Homo sapiens: one gene and its partner. The protein of the gene in region 1 purifies or fractionates together with the protein of each later gene. This does not show direct contact. Each region holds a gene or a part of one and is shown on either strand. Other genes may lie near its edges.

What was found.
Region 2: the proteins of ZNF121 (region 1) and EPB41L4B purify together in Homo sapiens (affinity purification with mass spectrometry; one large-scale study listed by BioGRID and IntAct). This does not show direct contact.

Annotation. Positions count from the first base shown.
Region 1 is NC_000019.10:9,570,885-9,574,700, reverse strand, and holds part of ZNF121 (zinc finger protein 121), read left to right. Parts: intron 1-3,816. UniProt on the Homo sapiens protein: May be involved in transcriptional regulation.
Region 2 is NC_000009.12:109,310,974-109,314,789, reverse strand, and holds part of EPB41L4B (band 4.1-like protein 4B), read left to right. Parts: intron 1-3,816. UniProt on the Homo sapiens protein: Up-regulates the activity of the Rho guanine nucleotide exchange factor ARHGEF18. Involved in the regulation of the circumferential actomyosin belt in epithelial cells.

The DNA of each region.
Region 1 (3,816 bases):
AGCATTCCACAAGTTACTTCCTCCTTCCTTTCTTCTCCTCTGCCTTTACGCCTTTTAAAAAGTTCTAAGCCAATCAAAACAAGTACAAAATGTGAGGTTCCATTCCAGCCAGTGGAAACTGGACACAGCAGTAGGGTGGATGCGTCAGGTTATAAATGAACCTGTCTCCTTTGTTCGGTGTACTCTCATGGCAAATCTGCTGGGGAGTGTACCCTTTCTGCAGAAAGTGTAAAAATGGCCTTGCTAGGGCCGGGCGCGGTGGCTTGTGCCTGTAATCCTAGCACTTTGGGAGGCCAAGGCGGGCAGATCACGGGATCAGGAGATTGAGACCATCCTGACTAACACGATGAAAACCTGTCTCTACTAAAAAAACAAAAAATACAAAAAATGAGCCGGGCATGTTGGAATGTGCCTGTAATCCCAGGTACTAGGGAGGCTGAGGCAGGAGAATCGCTTGAACCTGGGAGGCGGAGGTTGCAGTGAGCCGAGATCGCGCCATTGCACTGCAGCCTGGGCGACAGAATGAGACTCTGTCTCAAAAAAATGTATAAATAAATTAAAATGGCCTTGCTAAAGAAATAAAATTTATGTTCAAGTGCTATTTCTTTACGGCACCGGGAAACAAGCATTTCAAACATGGTGAAGCCCCGTCTCTACAAAAAAAAAAAAAAAAGAAAGAAAGAAAAATTAGCCAGGCATTGTGGTGCACATTTGTAGTAACAGTTACTTGGGAGGCTGATGTGAGAGTATGGCTTGATCCTGGGAGATAAAGGCTGCATTGAGCCATGATTGTGCCACGGTACTCCAGCCTGGGCAACGGAGTGAGACCGTCTCACAAAAAAAGAAAGAAAATGTCATCCTACTCCCTTCTGGCCTGTGTGTGGTTTCCCTTGAGAAATCCTGTTGCCAGACCAGCTGGAGTCCTTCATGTTATTTGCTTCTTTTCTCTTAATGCTTTTAAGGTCCTGTCTTTGTCCTTGACCTTTGAGAGTCTGAAGATTGTATGCTTTGTAGTAGTCTCATTTGGATTGAATCTGTTTGGTGTCATCTTACCTTCCTGTACCTGGATATTTATATTTTTCTCAATTTTTGGAATCTTGTTATTTCCTTAATAAAGCTTTCAAAGCTTACCCCTTGCACTTGCTGCATTCCCTCTTGAACACCAGTGATTCCTAGGTTTGGTCTTTCAAGGTAATTTTCTGCATCTTGCCGACAATCTTAGTTCCTTTTCATTCTTCTCTTCTGGCTATATTTTCAAATAGCTTTTCTTCAAGCTCAGTGAATCTTTCCTCTGATCCATCTTGCTGTTGAGAGCCTCTACCGTGAACTTTTGAGTTGAGTATTTCTCAGTTGTAAGATTTCTCTTTTTTGTTGTTGTTAATATATTCTAAAGTTTTTTCTGATACATTTCTGAGTTGCTCTTCTGTGTTATTTTGGAGATCACTGAATTTCCTTAAAACTGTTATTTTGAATTCTTAGGGAGCTCACATATTGTCATTTCATTAGGTTCAGTCACTGATACTATTTTCGTCCATTTTAGGAGGTCGTGGTTCCCCATTTGCTGTTGTTTCTTGTGGATGTACATCTGTGTCTGTGCATTGAAGGATTAGTTATTTATTACAGTCTTTGTCTGGCTTGTGGTTTTTATTGGGTATGTTTTCTTTTTATCTTTTTTGTTGTTGTTTTGAGACAAGGTCTCTCTCTGTCACCCAGGTTGCAGTGCCGTGGTGTGACCATGGCTTACTGCAGCCTCTACCTCCCAGGCTGAAGCAATCCTCCCACCTCAGCCTCCTGAGTAGGTGAGGTGCACGCCACCACACCTGGCTACTTTTTGTACTTTTTAGTAGAGATGGGTTTTCATCTTGTTGCTGGTCTTGAACTCGAGCTTAAGCGATCTGCCTGTCTCAGCCTCCGAAAGTGATTTTCTTTCTTTAAAATTTCCCTAGGTCACTGCCTCGTTTTCAGCACTAGATGGAATCTTAAACCCACGTTTGCCTTTGCTATAGCAAACTATCAAGAATACTGCCCATTCAGAATGAGGGAGTCCTAAAGGGCATATTCCAGCACTGTGGGAAGGCTGGCTGTGTGTTCATGCCCAGGTGACCTGTGTAGCGTACCCCTACAGTATGGTGCTCCTGAACAGCCACTCTGACTTGGCTTCTCCTTTGGCCAAGTTATAAAACAGAGTTTCCAGGGCTGGGATGGTAGTCCTGCCTCCCATCTTTGTCCCTGGATGTCCTCAGGGATGTTTCTCCCTTCAGGCATTTGTAATGCTTCCTGTGGGTTGAGACAGGGAGGGACTGATCTTTTACCAGGGAACCCAGGATGATGGAGAAGGTGGTTGTCCACATTGATCTCAGTTTTTTCCAGTGTAGAAACTGTGAATTGGTAGAAATTTTCCACATTCTTGGAAACTTGATTCTCTTAACGTCTCCCTTGGAGTTTTTTCACTTCTTTGTAGCCCCAGAAACTGCCTAATTTTTATATTTTAGATCAGGGATATTGCTGGTGATAATTTTCACAATATGCATTTGGTTGTAGTTTTCTGTCAGGGGATTGAAACCAGCTTGCTTCTGTACTACCATTTTGGAACCGTAAATGCTGCATGCTTCTAATAAAGTTGTCTAAGGTATTTTCAGGCAGGGCACAATGATTCATGCCCGTAATCCTAACACTGGGAGGCTGACGTGGGAGGATTGCTTGAGACCAGGTGTTTGAGACTAGCCTGGGCAACGTAGTGAAACCTCATGTCTATAGTAAAAAGAAAAAGAAAAACAATTAGCCAGGCATGGTAGTATGTGCCTATAGTCCCACATACTCGGGAGGCTGAGGCAGGAGGATTGCTTGAGCCCGGGAGTTTGAAGTTTGAAGTTGTAGTGAGCTATGATCATGCCACTCTAATCCAGCCTGGGTGACAGAGTAAGACCCTGTCTCTAATTTTTAAAAATGTGTTTTCTACTTCCTATTCATTGGATATGATCAGTATAATGGTGTCAACATAGTGTACTAGTGTGGTGTTTCATGGAATGTCATTTTCTCTGGGGATTAAGTTACGACAGAGACCTCGAGAACTGACACATTCTAGGGGCAATGTTATGAAGATACATTGTTGGTCCTGCCAGGTGAAAGGTAACCAAGTCTTGTTTTTTTCAAATTGGTATGGAGAAAAGACATTAGCTATGTCAATGCCTGCATACCAAGTGACAGAAATTATGTTGATTTATCTAGTAAAGGCATTACATTTTGAAAAATGGCGGTAATTGGAGTGATCACCTAAGTTCATGATTTATGAATGATTTCAGTGTGGTAATTGAGTGACAGGTTATGATTCTCCACTGGGATAAATCCAGTTTTTGGCTACTATAGTTTAGACTTTTTACATAGATGGAGCAGTATTCAAGTACAGAGATTGGTACACTATGGCCCATGGGCCATATCTGTCTCTCCATGTGTTTTTTGTATATAAAGTTTAATCAGAACACAACCGTGTTCATTTGTTTACATTTTCTATGGTATTTTCCATGCTACAACAGCAGAGTTGAGTAGCTGCAACAGAGACCATGTGGCCCATAATGCCTAACATATATTTTGTGGCTCTTTAGAGTAGGCTTTGTTAACTGCTTATCTATTTCATTTCTAGGGACAGCACGATCAGTTAGCCACCACCACAGATCTCTGTAGGTCAGGGCATTCTGATTACTGGTACATTTCCACTGTCCTTGATAGTTGATTTTCTCACCTTGTGTTTGGTGATTAAATACTACCTTCTTGATTTCTGCTATTCTGGGTCCCCTTCATCTCGATTGAAAGCAGGGA
Region 2 (3,816 bases), on another chromosome or scaffold:
GTAGGTATTGGCTAAAGGTGGCCTTCCACTACTTGCCCCACCCACATCCCCTCTCAGACCTGGAATGAGGCCTTGGATATCTAGTGGGTCATGAGTTTGTGTTATTTTTGGATATGCCTTCTTTGTTTTAAAAGAAAGGCTGAGGTGGGGGGGGGTGAGAGAGGGGTAATGAACACCCTTCCCAAAGGGGGTGTCGTGATACAAGCAAGAGCACTAACTCCCCTTCTATACTTGCTGGATTTGTCAGTGTTAATAAGGGGCGGGGGTTGGCCTGCAGGGGGAAGGGGCCGCAGCCTAGCCTCTCCAGTGCCGGTAACATGACCCTACACTGGTACAGGGCTCTGAACAAATATTAACTTGCTAAGCACTTTCACGTGCATAATCTCATTGAATTCTGTTCCTAGTACCCTGCAGTGGATGAAGGCACAGGTCTGTTTCGTTTTGAAATAGCAGAAGGTCGATGGGGGTGGGGCCTTCCCTTAAATTCTTGCGTGGGGACTTAGAAAAAAATCCAGCCTGGCAACCACAGAAATCCTCCGCCTACCATTTGTCCTCAAAACACGTGTTCCATCCTTGCCCACTGCTTGACTTCCTTTGGCCGGCTGGGAGTGGGCTCCTCCCCGGGCCTCTCTCTGCCCTGCCTGGAGCCTTCTCCTCCAGTGGGAACTGCACTCCAGTTTCCACCTGTAGCCCGTGGCTGCTGCCTGAGGGCAGGGTCAGCTGCTGATTCATCTGGGTGTGTTTTCCAGGTTCGTGTGTGTGCTCTCCTTTCATTTCTCGTTTACAATGCATTCATCGAAGACCCATTTGAAAATACACAAAGGTTGGAACAACATCTACAGTTTCATTAAACACTGTTAAAATAGGGGTGCGCATTCATCTGTGCTTTATTTCATATTCAGATATAAACATGTTTTTAAAATGATGAACTTAAGTGGGTTGATGGAAGTCTCTGTCTACTCCCACCTCAGCACAGTTGAATAAGGATGGTCGACTTGGAGCTTGTATCTCTTTAGGGTGAGGCCCTCGGCTCTCCTCTCTACATTTCCTGGGACTCTTAGCTGGGGTGGGGAGCCCCCAGTGCTTGTTAGCCATCTGCGCTGTGTGCTGCCTGCTGCCCCTCCCTTGGTAGGAAGCAAGCTGCCTGGCACTCTGACCCTCCTCACCACAATTACTTTCTCTTGCTGGCAGGTTAAAGGTCTTGTTGATGTGACCTCAGAGTCCCCTTGCATCTGAAAGCAGCTGCTATGGGGCAGTCTCGACTCTCGCCAGCCCAGGATGCCTGTGACTCTGCTACCAGCCAGAGCTGACCTGGCAGAGTGGGGCTGGAGCCGGGCAGCATCCTGGTGTGCCCCCCCACCACCCTAATCCCTCTAATCTCACTCCTTCTGCAGCCTCTGTGGCCTCTCTCTAGAGCTAGATTAATTTTACTAGTCCCACCTGATTTTAATTTCTGGTTTATTTTAAATTGTTTTCCAAAATGTTTTTGTTTGCTCACAATATGTTTTCTTCAGTCAGCAAAGGCTTACTGAGCCCTTACACTACATTAAGCATGGGGGAGGGGTATCGGAGAGAGAAGAGTGTTTCTTAAGCTCCCAGTCTTGAGGGGCAGACAGAGTAAACAGATACCCATAAACCAACATGGGGTGGTGCCGGGGGTGAGCAACTGAAGTGTGGGCTGGAGTTGGAGAAGGTTTTTTTTTCTTTTTTTGGTAACATTGGGGTCTCACTATATTGCCCAGGCTGGCCTGGAACTTCTGCCCTCAGGAGATCCTCCCACTGCGGCCTCCCAAAGCTCTGGGATTACACGTGTGAGCCACCACACCCGGGCAGCTGGAGAAGGTTTGGTCCCCAGAGTGACAATGGAATTGCCCCAAAGGATGTGTAGGAGTTCAGCTGTGTCTGGGTGGAGGGAACAGCAGGTGGAAACGCGTGGAAGATGGGGGTCAGAAAAGCCCCATCCCTGGGCTCCGGGTTCCTTGGGGTAGGGGATTCAGATGAGTTCTGGCTGTATGCCTGGATCTTAAAGGAGTGAGTGAGTGAGTTGCCTTTGAAATGAAGATGATGTCGGGACCCCATCTAGGTGATTATCTTGTTGAATCCTCACAAAAACTGTGTTGATGGTTACTGTTGTTATTCCTGATTTGTAGAGGAAAGAATCAGGGTTTAGCAGACAGGTTAAGAAACTTGTCCAAGGTCACATAGCTAGTAAAGGCAGACTCTAGCTTGATTTGTGGTCTGGGAAGGTCTCTGACAGCACAGCTGGGCGAGGGGGGTGGGAGGGCTCTGAGCTTGCCCCAGAGGTTCCGAGCTGGATGGCGACCCCTGAGCCCCCAAAGGGCTTCCACCTTTGTAGGCCACTTGGGATCAGATTTACTTCTTTAGTTAGACTCATTGAATGTCATTTCACTCGAGTGCATAATGGTTTGATGGCCATAATTCAACACTCAGATCAGAAGTAGGTGATGTTTTTAAAAAGTGCTTAGTAGAACAACATTAAAATTATCTCAAAGAAAAACATTTTCATATTCCTATCCTGCTGCATAGCAACTGGTTGGTTTCACTTTGTTCCTTTCCATCTTTGTGCTTTTGTATACATGTTTATAAGCGTGGTGTATATCCTTTAAAACATTTTTTTCTTTTCTCCTCCCCATCCACATTTCTTGACAGGCTTCTCACCAGTTTGGTGCCCTCTTTTGTGTGTATTCTAGAATACTTAAATTCAACTCTTATTCTCTGCTGTGTGTGATGTGGTTTGAGTGAGTAATACCTGTCTCTGGGGGCTTGGAGGTTGATATGCAAAGCACCTGATCACTTACGCGTCAGGCAGCCCCATCTCCAAGGCATGCAGAATCTGTGTTGCTTCCCTTAATCACTGCCGCCTGGGAAGGTGCACGTTATCATCCCCTTTGCAGATGGTCTCGGAGAGCAGATGGCCTCGGGCCACTCTGCTGGTAAGTATGGGAGAGCCAGATTGAATTTAGGTTTCCGGACTCATTTTCCAGTGCTCTTCCCCTCAGCCCATGCTGTGCACACCCAGCCTTCCTGTGTTAAATGTGTGTTCTCTTAGAACTCCCTGGGAAGGTCAGAATTTCATGCAGTAAAATCCCCTGTCTTTTCTGAACCACTTTGCCTTTCAGCATCTCTGGCATTTGGATTCTGTCTACCATTTCTCAGCATTTTTTGCAGGTTCTTTTCCCCAAAGTCATAGCTGGCTGAGTGCCCAGCATTTTCTTCATGAAGCCAAGAACTGGAAGATGATATCCCAAGGGTCCTGTCCCACCTGTGGGATCATCCGGTGCTTCTTTGTTACCCAGCTCAGTCCCCCCGGGTGGAATGGTCTACCCTGCAGCTGTGAGGATGCCAACTGCCTGGTTCAGCGGGTGCCTGCAGAGCTGGCATCCCTCAGCTCTGTGGTTTCTTTTCCATGCCTGTCTCATGAGCTGAGTGTTGTCTGCAGCATAGCATTCGCTCAGGTGCGTTGAAGTCAGCCTGATAATGCATCTCCTTTGCTCTACCTGTTCACTTGCTGAGCTGCACCTACCCTGAATTATGAATTTTTTTGAAAATCATGGTATTAATATAAATAACATAAAATTTACTATTTTAACCGTGTTTAAGTGTATGCAGTTAAGTGGCATGATGTACATTCACACTGTTTTGCAACCTTCACCACCATTGGTCTCCAGACGTTTTTCATCTTCCCAAACTGAAACTCAGTCCCCATTAAACATTAACTCCCTATTTTCACTCCCCCCAAACCCCGGGCAACCACCATTCTACTTTTTTGTCTATGAATTTAGCTACTCTAGGTAC